Linked DNA regions of Homo sapiens: region 2 is linked to region 1. Evidence: fine-mapped expression QTL. Tissue or cell type: esophagus mucosa. Region 1 holds a variant in brackets; the other region holds the start of a gene. All regions are shown on one strand. Distances are between the middles of the regions.

Evidence for each region. PIP is the estimated chance that this variant, and not a neighbour inherited with it, causes the effect.
Region 2: NIPA2 starts here. The variant in region 1 is fine-mapped to the expression of NIPA2 in esophagus mucosa (GTEx, PIP above 0.99).

What each region holds. Positions count from the first base shown.
Region 1 is chr15:23,780,027-23,788,134 of GRCh38, forward strand. No RefSeq gene overlaps it. Among named protein-coding and RNA genes, the nearest start is that of NDN, 97 kb to the left of the region's middle. The variant A/G (reference allele first, on the strand shown) is at 3,357.
Region 2 is chr15:22,835,015-22,843,122 of GRCh38, forward strand. NIPA2 (NIPA magnesium transporter 2) reads left to right here and starts at 3,652. Exons shown (of 8, transcript NM_030922.7): 1 at 3,652-3,907; 2 at 4,641-4,776. RefSeq lists an enhancer at 3,549-3,778.

The DNA of each region.
Region 1 (8,108 bases):
TGACTTCCCACAAATGGTATTCTCCTGCCAGAAAAACAAATGTAACTATGGGGTGGTATAATTTGGTATGGGCTGTGGAGGTTCTAATATGCAATAGAATAAATCCCAGATATTTTGTGAACTATGAGTCAGAATGAATGAGTACTTACTGTAATTTAGTAAGTGGTACTTTAAAATCTGATGGGGTAAGGAGGAAAATTTGATTGAAGGGAGAAACAAAAAGGGAACCATTTCTCATTTTCATCTTCTGATGCCCCGTTCTGAATGTGACACCCAGGACATGTTTTATGAGACCACTGGATATATACCCAAAAGTTTGCAAGGAGCGTGTCTTAGAAAAGAAAGTTTTGCCTGCTGTGGAGATGTGGCAGCGCTGGACTGGAAAATGTTAAGGAATGTGAATTTTCTTCATGTGCTGGAAGGCTTTGTTGGCACTGCATCCTCCTCTTAGATGCATGGAGGGCATGAGAGTAAGATTGGAGTGGAAGCAGGAACATGATGGCTCTTGGCACAGAACAGACAGGGATGCCAGCAATGCTTTCTCTTCTTGCATGTCCTTTCTCCTCATAAGCTGTCACTGTGGATATAGACCAAGCTATCTTCCCTGTAAATAGACCTGATCCACACACTGCCCTGTCCCATAGGTCAGCCATAGTGTACTATTCATAAATAGAAATCAAGTGACTGAGCAAACTCAGATAATATGTGATAGAGACCGGAAGTGAAAGGAGATAGGAGTTTGATAAATGGACATGTATTACACTGGAGGAGCTGCAGCTGAAGAAGAGAAGGCTTGATCCCCAAATGGGAAGGATGCCCATGCCATCCACATTCTTCACTGAACATGGCTGAGTCCCAGATGGTTTCTCTGTGTATGCGGCCCGACTTCAGAGGGAGAGAATCAATGTGAACTCTCTAATGTGATAGAATGCTCTAATTGGATTAAGCACATTCTGAGTAAAGGCTGGTGGCATCAGACCTACTGAGGCACCAACTGTGTTTCTGAGAGTTAAGGTGAAGAGGGCTGGTGGAGGGAGGGTGTAGTGTGGAGAATGCCAGGAGAGATGAGCATGTGGTATGGATCAGAGAGGTCTCTCTGGGCCACAGCTGTGCCTCCCTTTGACCTGTACAAGGTAAGAAGAGGAGGGACGAGTGCTGCCTGTTCATTTTTCTCCTTTTCTTTTTGAGCTCACATTTGTAGTAGGATGTTTCTCCTCATGGACTGACTCCTAAGTGTGACTGCAGATTAATCTACTCCATCAACTTTCACATATTCATCCACACACAAAACATAAAACTTAGACATAGGATAAAAGAGCCCACCTTGATCATCTATGAAACACGATGTGGGCCATGAGGCAACTGCACTTTCATAAAGGTTGCTTCAAGGCCTGTGTGGATAACATTTCAGGAGGACTGACTGGAGGCAGCCCTTGTGGGAGAACTAAAGCTCATCTATAAAATCTGTGCTCTGTTTCCTGCCCCCCTTCCTGACCCTGCTTGCTACTACCCACACATTTGTGCTAAGCAGGAACAGAGTTGAAGGGCTAAGGGGTCGGGTGTGTGTGGCTCATCCTAGTGGAAGGCAGGATGTTTGAAATTGGGTCCACAATATTCCAAACTGGGAAAATGCCCATTTTTCATAGGATCAGGAGATGCTCTGGCAGCCTGGACACCTGCTTCCTGACCTATATGGTTTGCAGGCCAGTCGTGCCTGAGGAAGTCCAGCTATCCACCGTCGAGTAGGAATCTTGCTCCAGCTCCTTATTCCTACTGCGAATTCATAGCATCACCCCCTGGCAGGCGGGGAGGGGGAAGAAGTGCTAACTGCTGGCTACAAAGTCAGGCCAGTACAGAGTTACTGTGAAACTGGTGAATCGGTGTCCTTAGATATAATAATTCTTTTCAGGGAAACTGCAGAGTCGTGATTCTGAACATGTTCAATGGGAAATTTGTTTGTGTAAAAGACAGGCACATTGGTTTTGTCCTTTCTGGGAGGCGTCCTCTTGATACTGGTCCGTTCTTTCTGGCGCACTGGAGAGATTTCTTCCTGCCTTTGCAGTTTTATGAGGGTGGGGGGTGGAGGGGTGAAAAAGGGGTGACTTTCCATGCTGGGGTCTTCCCGGATACCCCTCTTTGTTTTTCTAAGTCTACCTTGACTCACAGAAGGAGAAAAGAGGGAATTGTTCCTACCCGCACAACTTGTGGGTAGTAGCAAGCAGGGTGAGGAAGGGGGCTTGCTTTAGATTTAAATAAAAGTTGCAGTGGTGATACAGAGAGTTCCTGTATGCCCTACACCCAGTTTTCCCCATTACTAACATCTTGCATTAGTGGCATATTTATCACTACTAAGCGACCAATACTGACATGATTGTTAACTAAAGTCCATGCTTTATTGCTATTCCTTTAGTTTTTACCTAGTACCCTAATGTCCTTTATCTGCTTCAGGATCCCATCCAGGATACCACATTTATATCTATTTGTCATGCTTCCTTAGACGACTCCTGGTTGTCACAGGGACTCCAGTTTTGATGACCTTGATAGTTTTGGGGAGTCCTGGTCAGATATTTTGTAGACTGCCCCTCTACTGGAAATTTATTTATTTATTTATTTTTGAGATAGAGTCTTGCTGTGTCACCCAGGCTGTGTGTTCAGTAGCTCGATCTTGGCTCACTGCAACCCCTTCCTCCCGGGTTCAAATGATTATCCTGCCTCAGCCTCTCAAGTAGCTGGAATAACAGGTGTACACCACCACACCCCTGATGACTTATGTATTTTTAGTAGAGACAGTGTTTCACCATGTTGGCCAGGCTGGTCTCGAACCCCTGACCTCAAGTGATCTGCCTGCCTCAGTCTCCCAAAGTGCTGGGATTACACGTGTGAGCCACCACCACCGGGAATCTATTGGAAATTCAGTGCTGTTTTTCTCATGATTAGACTGGAGTTTTTGGGTTAGCAAGGGAAGACCACAGAGGTCATCATTGTTTTCATAATATGGTATCAGGAGTGCATGCTGTCATCATGACTGATCGCTGTTGATGTTGACTTAAATCACATGGATGAGGTAGTGTTTTCCAGGTTTCTCCATGGTAAAAGCTCTTTTTCCCCTTTCCATACTGTAGTTATTGACAGAAAGTCACTGTGTGCAGTCCCCACTTCAGGGATTATGCTCCCCTCCCTGATGGCGGAGTATCTGCATATATTATTTGGAATTCTGCAAGCAGGCCTCTTTTTCACCCTCTGAATCTTAGAATTTTGAATGCTTAAAAGCGGTGGGCTGAGTGTGAGGTAAGAAAAATCAAGATGTTTAATTGGACATCTCTTGTATAACCTGGTAGCCAGTCTTAGATTTGTTG[A/G]AAGTGTGATATTTTTTTCTTCCTAAGGTAAGGACCAGGTGGTGCTCTGGGAGGGTGTTTAGAGAATGGAGGTGGAATGGGCTTCTTCCAGAGCCCACGCATGAACTGTGGGCAGTGGCTTGGTTACCCCAAGTTCCTGAATGTTTCCCTTGCAACATGGAAGGGGACAAGGAATATTGTGAAAGGGAAGATGTATATATGTTTGGTTTCTGGGGAAAAGGGACATTAGAAGTAGCCATGAGGGGCCGGGTGCAGTGGCTCACACCCGTAATCCCAGCACTGTGGGAGGCCGAGGCTGGCGGATCACCTGAGGTCAGGAGTTTAAGACCAGCCTGGACAATATGGTGAAACCTGGTCTCTACTAAAAATGAAAAAATTAGCTGGGCGTGGTGACAGGTGCCTGTAACCCCAGCTACTCAGGAGGCTGAGGCAGGAGAATCAGTTGAACCCAGGAGGTGGAGGTTGCAGTGAACCAAGATCACACAATTGCACTCCAGCCTGGGCAACAGAGCAAGACTCTGTCTCAAAAAAAAAGGACGCATGACAGGGCAGTACAAGGTGCTGGACCCTAACAAGATAAGGAAAGTGTCCAAGGACAGGGCCCAGCACTGGGATTGAGGAGGGCTGTGTGGAAGTCCATTCTCCAAGAGTGAAGTTCTGGTTTTCATTATCCTTCACCCATGTGCTGACTTAATGCTTCTACAATGTGTGATCACTCTCCCATAGTGGCTGCTGTCTTCTCCCTGTACCTCCCCACCTTGCTCAGACTCCCCACCCCACTGGCCCCCAACAGCTGCATTCTGTCCTCACAGCTTTCTGGCTCTAATACCCCATGTAGGGCCTCCACGCTCATGGGGAAGAATCACACAGAATTTCCCACTACCCAATGCTTCCCTTTGTGTGATCTGGACAGAGAGAGGTCAGGGGGTCTGAAACTTGGGCTATATGACAAAATGAGGTGTTAATGTTTAAAATCTGAGAAAAGGCCTGTTTTTCTCAGATTTTTGTTCTTGTAAACAAAACTCATGATTCCCTGAATAAATTGAACTTATGGCAGACATGCTAATCAACTTTAATAAGTTGTACTGCAGTATCAAAGACCCCTCAGAATTACGTTGATTTGCAATCACGAACACCTATTTCTTCTTCATGTATAAAAATAACAATGGTTGACTACTGCTTTGTTTCATGTATCTTCTGGGATCTAGGTGGCAAACACACCACATTACAGCAGAAGGAAAAGTAATCACACATCTTTGGATGCATATCTTCAAGTATCTACGTGGTCGTGGCAACCATCACTTCAGCTCACATTCTCAAAGGCAGTTGTAGGCCCAAGCAGAATGTCTGTGAGACATAGAGTATATCCTTTTTATAGGGAAGGGTGAGGGAACAATGAAAAACAACAATGGAAAGAACAATTCATCCTGAGGCAGAATTCCTCTCTAGCTGTGAACCTGTGTAATCGAACAAGTTATACAAAATACAACCGTCATGGTATAGGGTAGTCACTCCCATTTCAAAAAGGAGTAACAGGAAAGAAGGAAGGGGTGAATGGGTCCCAATCAAGTCCAAAATCTAGCAAGGTAAGCTCCATGAAATCTTAAGGCTCCAGAATTTAACTGTTTGAGGTCTTCATCAATTTTGGAAAATCCTCAGGCATTATTTCCTCAGATACTGCTTTGGTCCCATTTATCTCTCTTTCTTCTACTTTGCAGATTCTAATTCCAAATAATGTTCAAATCTTTACTGTTTCCTAAATGTCTCAAATATAGATTTTCAATAATTTATCTCTGTAATTACTTTAATATATTAGCTGTTGATCTTTCTATGTATTATTCACTCTATTATTCACTCATACAAAGTTCTTAATTTTAGCTACTGAATTTTTATTTTTATAATTTGAGTATTTTATGTGTTACTCACCTTTGGAAACTTTTCATATTTTCATCTTTTTATATCTTTTTTATAAAAATTTTGTCTTTTTAAGCAAACAAAAAAAAAAGACAAAGCAAAAAGGTTTTGTCTTTTTAAGCAAAGATGTTACTTAAAAATAGAAGTGGGAGTATCCACTTACCAACTTCCTCAGTACCTGTAGAAAAATTAGCTTGCCAGTTAGAAATAATAAGATGTACAGTAAAGTGTCAATTTAAGGTGTCAATCATTTAAAAAAACATTAACCTAAAGCACAGCTATCAATAATATTCAAGATAATTTTATGGGAAAATGACATTAAATTTCACTTTCATAAAAATACCAGAGAATGGTACTTGAGACCACTCACAGTACAAACCTGGTTACAAATATTGCTTCATTTCCCTTAAGTATGCAGAAGCCACTCCCTCCTTTAAGTGAACCCCCAGTGTGTCATCTAATCACACCATCAGACTTCAAGTCTTGGATCTCATATGGCACTTTAACTTTACTGTATAGGGTCTTTGGTATCTAGAGATTTGAAAGATATGTTGGCGGCTCCACACACAATCACACAATCCACATGTAATATTGGGGCAGGGTAATCTCGATAAATACTCGCTTTCAGAAAGGGGAAGGAAGGCGGCACTCAGCCATCAGTGCGTAACAAAAATTCTGAAATCTGTTCGGACAAACATTGTGAGGACCCCCAGCTAGTTGGTAGACAACCTTATTTCAACCATCCCAGTGTCTGCTGCCTTGGAGCAGGTCTCTAGTCGGTCATACTCTGAGATTCTTGGCTCCACACCCCGGGAAGTCCATCCTTCCCCATCCATTTCCTTGGCCACATGAGAATTGGGCATAAAAGAATATTCTCTCTTTGGGAAAAGAACAGAATATTGTTGGCTCAAAGGTAATTTTACTTCTCAAACAGCTACAGGCTATTTTGGCAGTACAACTCTCTCAAAGCCTAATTAGTTTTTGTTCTGCAAAATTCCAGTGTGCCGACAGTTATATCCACAATTCTTTTCATGACCTGTTCTACCTTAGCTTGAGGTAAGATGAAGTAAATTGAGGTAGCAGACTTCCAAGAAAGAGTCACACCCTTTGGCTTTTTTGTTCTCTGAGACATTCCGCATAAAAAGTGTTGACTTGATTTCCCTTCATTCAATTCAGAGGTCATAACAAAGGGCATGAGGCCAATGATTTGGTCTTTACTGTAACACTGAGTTTTGATCCTTGTTCCTCAATTTCAGCTCGCATCATTTGGAGAGAACAGTCAATTCCATCTTTTGACCTTGCTGTCAGATACACAATTTATTATCCGAAATTATCTTGTTCTTGTAATACCTTTTCTAAAGTAGCCAACAGCAGCTAAAACATGCTAGTTGCCTTCAGTCTCCCAGACTCTTTGGCTAAATTCATAAGCTCATTCCAACTTATCATACACACATTGTAGCAAAATGCCTTATCAATAAAAACACGAGTCACTCTTATTTTCCAGGAGTTAATAAGAGCTTTGCAACTGCCTATCTCCTGGACTGGAGATAAATGTTTTAGCTTTTCATTCTGGTGACACCTCATAACTGGTACTGATTTCTTTATTCATTCATTTTCACTAGGTTATCGCTATGGTAAGAAATGACCCCCAAAACTCAGATACTCATAATTAATTAATTTCTTGTTTATATACATGTTAGCTGTGGGTCTGGTGGGGGTCAGTTGCAGTTTTTTGCATGTCTTTTGGGTTCTGGGATCCAGATTGAAAGACATGCCATTCTTATGACAGCAGGAACAGAAGCAATCACAGAAGTACGTGATGGCTCTTAGGGTTATGCTTGGTTGTGGCATTCATAATTTCTTCTCAAATTCCATTACCTCTAAAGCATAGCACATGCCTATGCATTGGATGGGATAAGAAAATCTTCTTATAAGAAAGTGGGAGTCAATAACTGGTACCAATAATGCAATCTACTGCCACATGAGAAGGAGACGAGGAAGTGTCCCGATCTTGAGATATCATCGTAGAGCCTTCATGAGTTATTTGTGTAGTAAATATACTTTTTGTACCTGTGTTCTCCACTTTTTTTTTTTTCTAGAGCTAAGTAGTAGATACGAGGCTAGAGATACATGGAAAAAAGGAGGAAGCATCTTCTTGCCTTTTTCTCTCCTTGCTGGAACCAATGTATCCAAATAGACCCTTTTCTATCCTGTTGCTAGGGAGACAGAACAAAACATGGCTCAACATTTACTCACTGTTAACCACCTGTTTCCCTGCTGACATGCACTGTAGTCACTGGGCTTTGAAATGGATTAAGGCAATCCCTGATGAAGGTGCCTGTAGTTGTATAAGAATACTCAGATAATCAGCTATTTTAAACAATTCATAAAATGTGAAATTAAAGAAGCAAGTGAATGGATGAGACAAACAAAGAAGCACCTTCTCATGAACAAAAGGGCTGGGCCTTACAAAAAGCATTTCTGGCCATGTAGTGAAAGCTGTGTCCTGTGAGTCTCTATCCTCATCCTCTGTGCTCATTCCTAGAACCATTTTCTGGCTTCAGAATGGGCACAGCTGCTGAGGACATGCTATGTGATTCACACTGTTACAAGCCAGAACGTGTAAAACAGGGGCCAAGGTTTTTTAAAGTGGTTCTTTAGTACAAGCAATATTCAGGTCTTATTGTCCATATTTGGCTACTGACTACAAAGTTTAGGAGCCAGCACATGGGAGGATGCAGGTGGGTAAGCAGGGAAAGCCTATGTCTCTGATGGGGAATGCACAGTTTTTTGCTTGCAGTAAGAACATTCTTTCTGTCTACAGTCAGTCTTGACTCT
Region 2 (8,108 bases), 950 kb before region 1:
TCCCGAGTAGCTGTTACTATAGGTGCCGCCACCACCACACCCAGCTAATTTTTGTAATTTTAGTAGAGACGGGGTTTCACCGTGTTAGCCGGGATGGTCTCAATCTCCTAACCTCGTGATCCGCCCATCTCGGCCTCCCAAAGGGCTGGGATTACAGGTGTGAGCCACCGCACCCGGCCTGCAAGTATTTTTATGGATACATTTCTGTTGAGTAAATACTCAGGAGTAGAACTGCCAGGTCATTTGGTCGGTGTATGTTTAACTTTTTAAGAAACTGTCAACCAATTTTCCAAGGAAATTGTCCCATTTTACAATTCCACCAGTAGTGTATGAGAAGGAGTTAGAGTTTTAAAACCTTAAAAATATCTCATGACAACTGCTTGAACACTCAGAGTATACAAGATGTACAACATCACGGGCTGGAGAAGTGATGTGGGCATGTAAGAAGCCTGCAGCATATTAGCAAGGTATATATAGACTTATAAAGACAATGCACTGTGCAGTGTCGGGGGAGGTGTCCGGTGGGAGGTCCAAATAATGACAGAAAGCTGATTAGATGAGGTGGAGCTCCAGCTGGCAGAAAGGAGTGACAAGCAAATTTGTTCGTTAGGTTAAATTAACATATCGACACCTAAGCATTCCTGTTCATGTGAACAAACCACTACTTTATTACTCATCTGCCTCCTAGAGCAGCAGTCCCCAACCCTTTTGGTACCAAGGACTGATTTCATAGAAGACAATTTTTCCACAGACGCTGGGGAAGGGGGGCGCGGGGAGGATGTTTTCGGGATGAAAGTGTCCCACCTCAGATCATCAGGCATTATTTAGATTCTCATAAGGAGCGTGCAACCTAGATCCCTCGCATGCACAATTCACAATAAGGTTCGCACTCTTGGGGACCTCTGTCCTAGAGGTATTTGTTGGCATCTGTATCAGTTAGTTATTGCTACATACCAATCTACCCCAAAATAAGTGGCTCAGACAATAGTAATTTATCCTTCCTCATGTGTTTATGGGTTAATGGGGCAGTTTTGGTCAGTGGCTGGTCTCAATGGTAGTCAGCCAGCATTTACCTAGGTGGATTTGCTGCTTGCCTTGCCCCATGTGGTCCCCTCCTCCAGCAGGCTAGTCCAGGCATCATAATTTAGTCTGGAACTGCCACATGTTCTTGGCCAAAGCCCAAGGCCAGTACAGATTCAGGAAATAGAGGGGAGCTGCAAAGTCACTGCAAAATGTGTGGGAAATTGGAGCCATTTTTCATCAATCTACCACATCACCTGAGACCAACTTGTCAACCGTCTTTCAATATTCAATGGAATTCCTTATCTGAGAGTGTCAACTAGCCAAAACATGGCTGAGACCAAAGAAAGTAATAGATCCTCTGAGCCAGTTCTGAGATGCAAGTAATAGGTCCTCTGAGCCAGTTTTAAGATGATTGCTAGGCTCACGGCAGATTAAAAGCTTTAAAATTAGAAGCTGCATAGTGACCTAAACCAAAACCAGAGTGGTCAGGGGCTGTGTATACAGTCTAGAACACAACAGTCCAATAGGATTAGAGCCTGAAAAGGACAAATGATATTTGGTGTTTTGTTTCAAAAAGTGCATAATTCATTTTATAAAGATCCTCCCCCCACATGATTTGAATTTCATATAATAGTGTTTTTGTGTCTAGTCACAACCTGGAACAACATTCCTAAGGGACTCTACACCTGCAACCAAGGAATCATTGATTTACTAGGAGATCTAACTCTAGCTGGCTACTCTTTGCTTCTTACAAATGAGCTCTGTCTTTGACTACTTTTGCAGAAACCACGTTGGTGGATCCCAAGGAATTTCTCCTTTCCAGGAGGAGCCAAGGCAGGATAGCCTAACAGTTAGTTTCCTATACATCTCATGAAAAATAAATCTGCGCTTTGGGAGGCTGAGGCGGGTGAATCACGAGGTCAAGAGATCGAGACCATCCTGGCCAACATGGTGAAACCCTGTCTCTAATAAAAATGCAAAAATTGGCTGGGTGTGGTGGCTCACACCTGTAATCCCAGCACTTTGGGAGGCCGAGGCGGGCGGATCACGAGGTCAGGAGTTCGAAACCAGCCTGGCCAACATGGTGAAACCCCATCTCTACTAAAAATACAAAAATTAGCTGGGCGTGGTGGTGTGCACCTGTAATCCCAGCTACTGGGGAGGCTGAGGCAGGAGAATGGCTTCATTGAACCCAGGAGGCAGAGGTTGCAGTGAGCCGAGATCGTGTCACTGCGCTCCAGCCTGGGTGACAAGAAAGACTCCGTCTTAAAAAAAAAAAAAAATTAGCCGGGCGTGGCGGCGCGCGCCTACAGTCCCAGCTATTCGGGAGGCTGAGGCAGGAGAATCGCTTGAACCGGGGAGGCGGAGTTTGCAGTGAGCCGAGATCGTGCCACTGCACTCCAGTCTGGCGACAGAGCGAGACTCTGTCTCAAAATCAATCATTCAATCAATCTGCTCTCAGTGTCTCGAGGCGGGCTTTCACCAAACGTCAACCTCACATCTATTCCGCGACCGGGTCAGTAAGGAAGGGCCCAGCGGTCGTCGAACTACCACAGCTATTTCGGCCCCGCCCCGTCCCGCCCCCAGCTTTGGACCCACCCTTTCCCCCGCTTCTTGCCCTCTTGGGAGCTCTGTTCCCCTTTGGCATCGCCCGGGGACACCAATTAAATGCAGCTTCACACTGTGACTGCCCCTGGGAACCCTCATTTTATTTTATTTATTTATTTATTTTTGAGAAGGAGTCTCGCTCTGTCGCCCAGGTGGAGTGCAGTGGCTGATCTCGGCTCACTGCAACCTCCGCCTCCCGAGTTCAAGCGATTCCCCTGCCTCAGCCTCTGGAGTAGCTGAGATTACTGGCGCGCACCAACACGTCCAGCTAATTTTTGTATTTTTAGTAGAGATGCGGTTTCCCCATGTTGGTCACGTTGGTCTCGAACTCCTGACCTCGTGATCTGCCCGCCTCGGCCTCCCAAAGTGCTGTGATTACAGGTGTGAGCCACCGCGCCCGGCCGGAACCCTCATTTATTCTATTTTTTTTTGAGACGGAGTCTCGCTCTGTCGCCCAGGCTGGAGTGCAGTGGCGGGATCTCCGATCACTGCAAGCTCCGCCTCCCGGGTTCGCGCCCTTCTCCTGCCTCAGTGTCCCGAGTAGCTGGGACTACAAGCACCCGCCACCACGCCCGGCTAATTTTTTGTATTTTTAGTAGGGGCGGGGTTTCACCGTGTTAGCCAGGATGGTCTCGATCTGCTGACCTCGGGATCCGCCCGCCTTGGTCTCCCAAAGTGCTGGGATTACAGGCGTGAGCCACAGCGCCGGGCCCGGAATCCTCGTTTTAAATAAGGGCCACGCCGGAGTTTGATTTTGAACTGATCGGCCAACGCCACCTGGCAGCATACTGTACTGCTTAACTACGCTTCCAGCTTCGTCCCTCGCCAGGTCCCGCCTGGATCCTGCGCCCCGCCCCCGTCCCCACACTCTACGCGCCCCGCCCTCCGCGCTCAGCCGACTGGGGCCTTGTAAAGGAACCGGAACCCGGCGGGAGAGAGCCCCGGGGGCGGGGTGTACGTGGTGCGGCACTGCGCGTGCGCGCGAGGCCTCTTGCGTCATTTAGCCGCGCCTAGGTTTTCCGGCGCCGGCCCTAGGTCCCGGCAGCGGTGGTGACGGCGGTGCCGGAGGTTGTCCTTGGCAGGTTTTCCTCGGCGCTTCTCCATGGAGGAGGCGGTGCGAACGGCTTCAGCCCCGAATGCTCGCATCTCCCACTGGACGGCGACGAAGGCGGTGGCCGTGCGAGCGCAGGACTGGGCGGCCTGTGTGGGGGTGTGAGCCGCGGTGCCCAAGGCTGCGCCGGCGAGGGGAAGCCGCGCGGCCGGCCGGCCGACTAGGGTGAGGTCGCCACTCCTTCCTTTCAGGCAAGCGCGAAGGGGCTGACTTGGTGGCGAGCCAGCCCGCCTTGTGTCGGAGAAGGGTTCTTCGGGCAACTTTCCTTTCCGGGTGTTCTGAAGCGGTTTTCCTGTAATCCTCAGTGAGGAAACCCACCGTGAATCGGATTGCCGTTCAGTCCCACGGAAGCCTGGCTCGTTGGCCATGTCGGGGACGCATGTTCATTAAGTTCATTAAAATAATTTCATTTGTCTTGGTGAGTTTTAGAAGGTGGCTTCAGCTGCTGCGGGGATCATAACTGACAGTTAAACAAGCCTTAGAAGTCTGCTGTGACGTTTTGAGCCTGACTGTTTTAATTTCCTTTTATAAAATCACGGAATCCTATTTCCCTCTCTATACAATTGCTCAAAACTGTGTGTTTAGTTTGGTGTTTGTGCCTCCTTAATTTCTTTTCTAGGTTGTTAGTTCATTTAATACAGGACTGCATGTTAAGTTCTGTTTCTAGAAATCCTGTGTATAGCCATGTGCCCGGTTAATACTTTTTTTAGTAAGAGGAAATATCAGAGTCGAGAGTTTCCATTCCAGTAAGCTGCCTGTCGAAGCAGTAGTTGTGCTCGATTGAGTAGGTTTTATGTTGATTGGTTGGCAAAATGAGTATGAAGGCTAGTAACCAAATTATAAAACGTACTTAGTAACTTTAAGTCTTTTGCCTACTTCTGTGTTTTCTTCTTTCTAGGCTGGAGCTACTCGGCCAGGGTTTAAGACTTTAAATGAGAATAAAGGGTGGTATTTACGAGGAAATGAGAGTGAATAAGTCATCTCTAACCTCTCCCAGCCTTTTTTTCATAAGAGAGACCATATTAAACTTACATGTAAGTTAAAATTGTAATTTATAACTAATATTGTTGCATAGTTAGGGTTGGAGATTTAGGTTCTGTAATATTTATAAGTACAGTACTGCTTTGAAAAATTATTAGCCAAGTGAGAGGTTGGAAAAAATTAAATCTAACATGTATTTAATTTTTCTGAGCCAAGGTCTTGCTCTGTCCCCAGGCTAGACGGTGCAATCTGGGCTCACTGCAACTTCCGCCTCCCGGGCTCAAGTGCTCCTCCCACCTCAGCCTCCCCAGCAGCTGGGACCACAGACGTGCGGCACCATGCCTGGCTAATTTTTGTATTTTTTTTAGAACCGGGGTTTCACCATGTTACACCGGCTGGTCTCCTAATTCTGGACTTAAGCGATCCAACCACCTTGGCCTCCAAAGTGCGGGGATTACAGGTGTGAGCCACCGAGCCGGGCCTAAGCTAACTTAGATAGCAGTGGAAACCAGGTAGTAAAGATTTCGTAGAAAACTAAGAGCTCTATATATAGTTTTTTTTTTTGTTTTTTTTTTTTTGAGATGGAATCTTGCTCTGTCACTCGGGCTGGAGTGCAGTGGCACGATCTCTGCTCACTGCAACCTCCGCCTCCTGGGTTCAAGCGGTTCTCCTGCCTCAGCCTCCGGAGTAGCTGGGGTTACAGGCGCCGGCGACCACGCCCAGCTAATTTTTGTATTTTTAGTAGAGACGGGGGTTTCACCTTGTTGGCCAGGCTGGTCTCTTAACTCCTGACCTCAGGTGATCCGCCCGCCTCGACCCCCCAAAGTGCTGGGATTACAGGCGTGAGCCACCGCGCCCGACCTAAGAGCTCTAAAGTGTTAATGTAATGTGGGCAGCCGGGTGTAGAAGTAAAGTCCCTTTCTGTGTGGTCCTCTGCATGTGACTCTTTTTTACCCCTGGGAGGTTTCCTTAGCTGTAAAGTGATACCTTCATCTTATTGCGTAGAAGAGAAATGAGTAGAAATGATGCATGGAATAGTGCCTGGGGAGGTGTTCAGTAAGTGGTAGCTATTGTTAGGGAGAGATAATAAAAAGAATTTCACATATTTTCAGAATGTTTTTAATAGGTAAATATGGTTTACTCATATTTAAAACACATGACTTTGAATATTACATTTTTTTATAGATGGTGTAAGCTTCATTTAAACTGATTTATTTGATTGCTATACATTGTGATATTGAACAGAAAGATAAGACTTCTGCAGAGAATAAAAGGTGGGGTGGGGGTGGGAGAGGAAATGGGAGATTTAGGTCACAGGATACAAAGTAGCAGATATTCAGGATGTACAACTTGAGAACTACAGCTAATGAAATTGTATTAGAGATTTTCCTTCAATGAGTAGATTTTAGCTGCTTTTGTCATAAAAAAGTAACTACATGAGATGATAGATATGTTGATTTGCTCTACTGTGGTAACTGTGTTAGTATCTGTATGTTTCCCATAACATAAATCTCAAATATACACAATTTGCAAAGATTTATCTGTGTTGTAGAATTAAATACACCCCTCAGACTAGATTAGAGCATCCTTAAACATTTCTGCATATCTATTTGTTTTATGTAAATGAAGTTGAAACAGAACTACTTAAATAGTTCTGTAATGGCTCCAGATGAAAATAAATTATGATCTGGCCAAATAAATGGGTTGCAGATCTGTTCCTTGCCTTTTGGGTTTGTGTATGGCCCATAGGGCCCCACGTGATCTGACACTCACCTTTTTTTTTCTTCTGAGATGCAGTTTTGCTCTTGTTGCCCAGGCTAGAGTGCAGCTGTGCGATCTCGGCTCACTGCAACCTCCGCCCTCCAGTTTCTAGCGATTCTCCTGCCTCAGCCTCCCGAGTAGCTGGGATTACAGGCGCCCGCCACCATGCCTGGCTGATTTTTGTATTTTTAGTAGAGTCGGGGTTTCACCATGTTGGTCAGGCTGGTCTCGAACTCCTGACCTCATGATCCACCCGCCTCGACCTCCCAAAGTGCTGGGATTATAGGCGTGAGCCACCGCGCCCGGCCGGACACTCGCTTTTTCACGCTAATGTATCTCACCTGCCCTCACTCAAGGTCAGCCACAGTGGCCTTTGTTTAGGAAACTGCACACCCGCTCATACCTCAGAGCCCCTGCACTTGCTTCTCTCTCCTTTGTTCTTTTCAAAAAGCTCTTTGAAGCTTCTACTCAAGTGTTACTGCTCAGCAAGGCCTCCTAACTATGGTCATTAGAATCCCCCAACTCAACTCCCCAGTGCCCTTCACATGTTTTATTTTTTACCATAACATTTGCCACTTTTCCAGAATAATGTCTTTATTTCGTTTATTATTTCGCCCTACCTCTAGCAGGAGATAACCCCATGTGGGCTGTTGTACCCCTGCTCCTAGAATATTGTACATGCTCAGTAAACGTTGGTTGGTTGAGTAAATGATATAAGCAAGCCACATGTTCACTGGGAGCCACAGTGAAGGCAATACTAGTTAAGTACCAAAGTAACCGTAACAGAGGGGTAGTTAGTGTCAACCAAATATGGAGGAGGAAAGGTAGGAGCAGGTTAGAATAGCAGCAGAGTGCTGACCGGGGTAGAACACAGGATGTGTGAAATATGGTATGGGGAAATAAGATCTAGGCTGGGCGCGGTGGCTTACGCCTGTAATCCCAGCACTTTGGGAGGCTGAGGTGGGTGGATCACAAGGTCAGGAGATCGAGACCATCCTGGCTAACATGGTGAAACCCCATCTCTACTAAAAAAAAAACCCAAAATATTGGCCGGGCACGGTAACTCACGCCTGTAATCCCAGCACTTTGGGAGGCCGAGGCAGAAGGATCACCCGAGGTCAGGAGTTCAAGACCAGCCTGACCAACATGGCGAAACCCCATCTCTACTAAAAATACAAAAATTAGCTGGGCGTGGTTGCAGGCACCTGTAATCCCAGATACTCAGGAGGCTGAGGCAGGAGAATCACTTGAACCTGGGAGGCAGAGGTTGCAGTGAGCCAAGATTGCGCCAGCGCACTCCAGCCTGGGGGATAGAGCGAGACTCTGCATCCAAAAAAATTAAAAAATGCAAAAAATTTGCCTAGTGTAGTGGTGGGCGCCTGTAGTCCCAGCTACTCGGGAGGCAGAGGCAGGAGAATGGCATGAACCCAGGAGGCGGAGCTTGCAGTGAGCAGAGATTGCGTCACTGCACTCCAGCCTGGGCAACAGAGTGAGACTCTGTCTCAAAAAAAAAAAAAAGAGAGATCTAAAAGGTAGGTTTGGAACAAATGATGCAGGGTCTTTGTTACTAGTTTACACAATTTGGTCTTCTTGCTACAAACAGGGGTCGTGATTCCAAATTCTT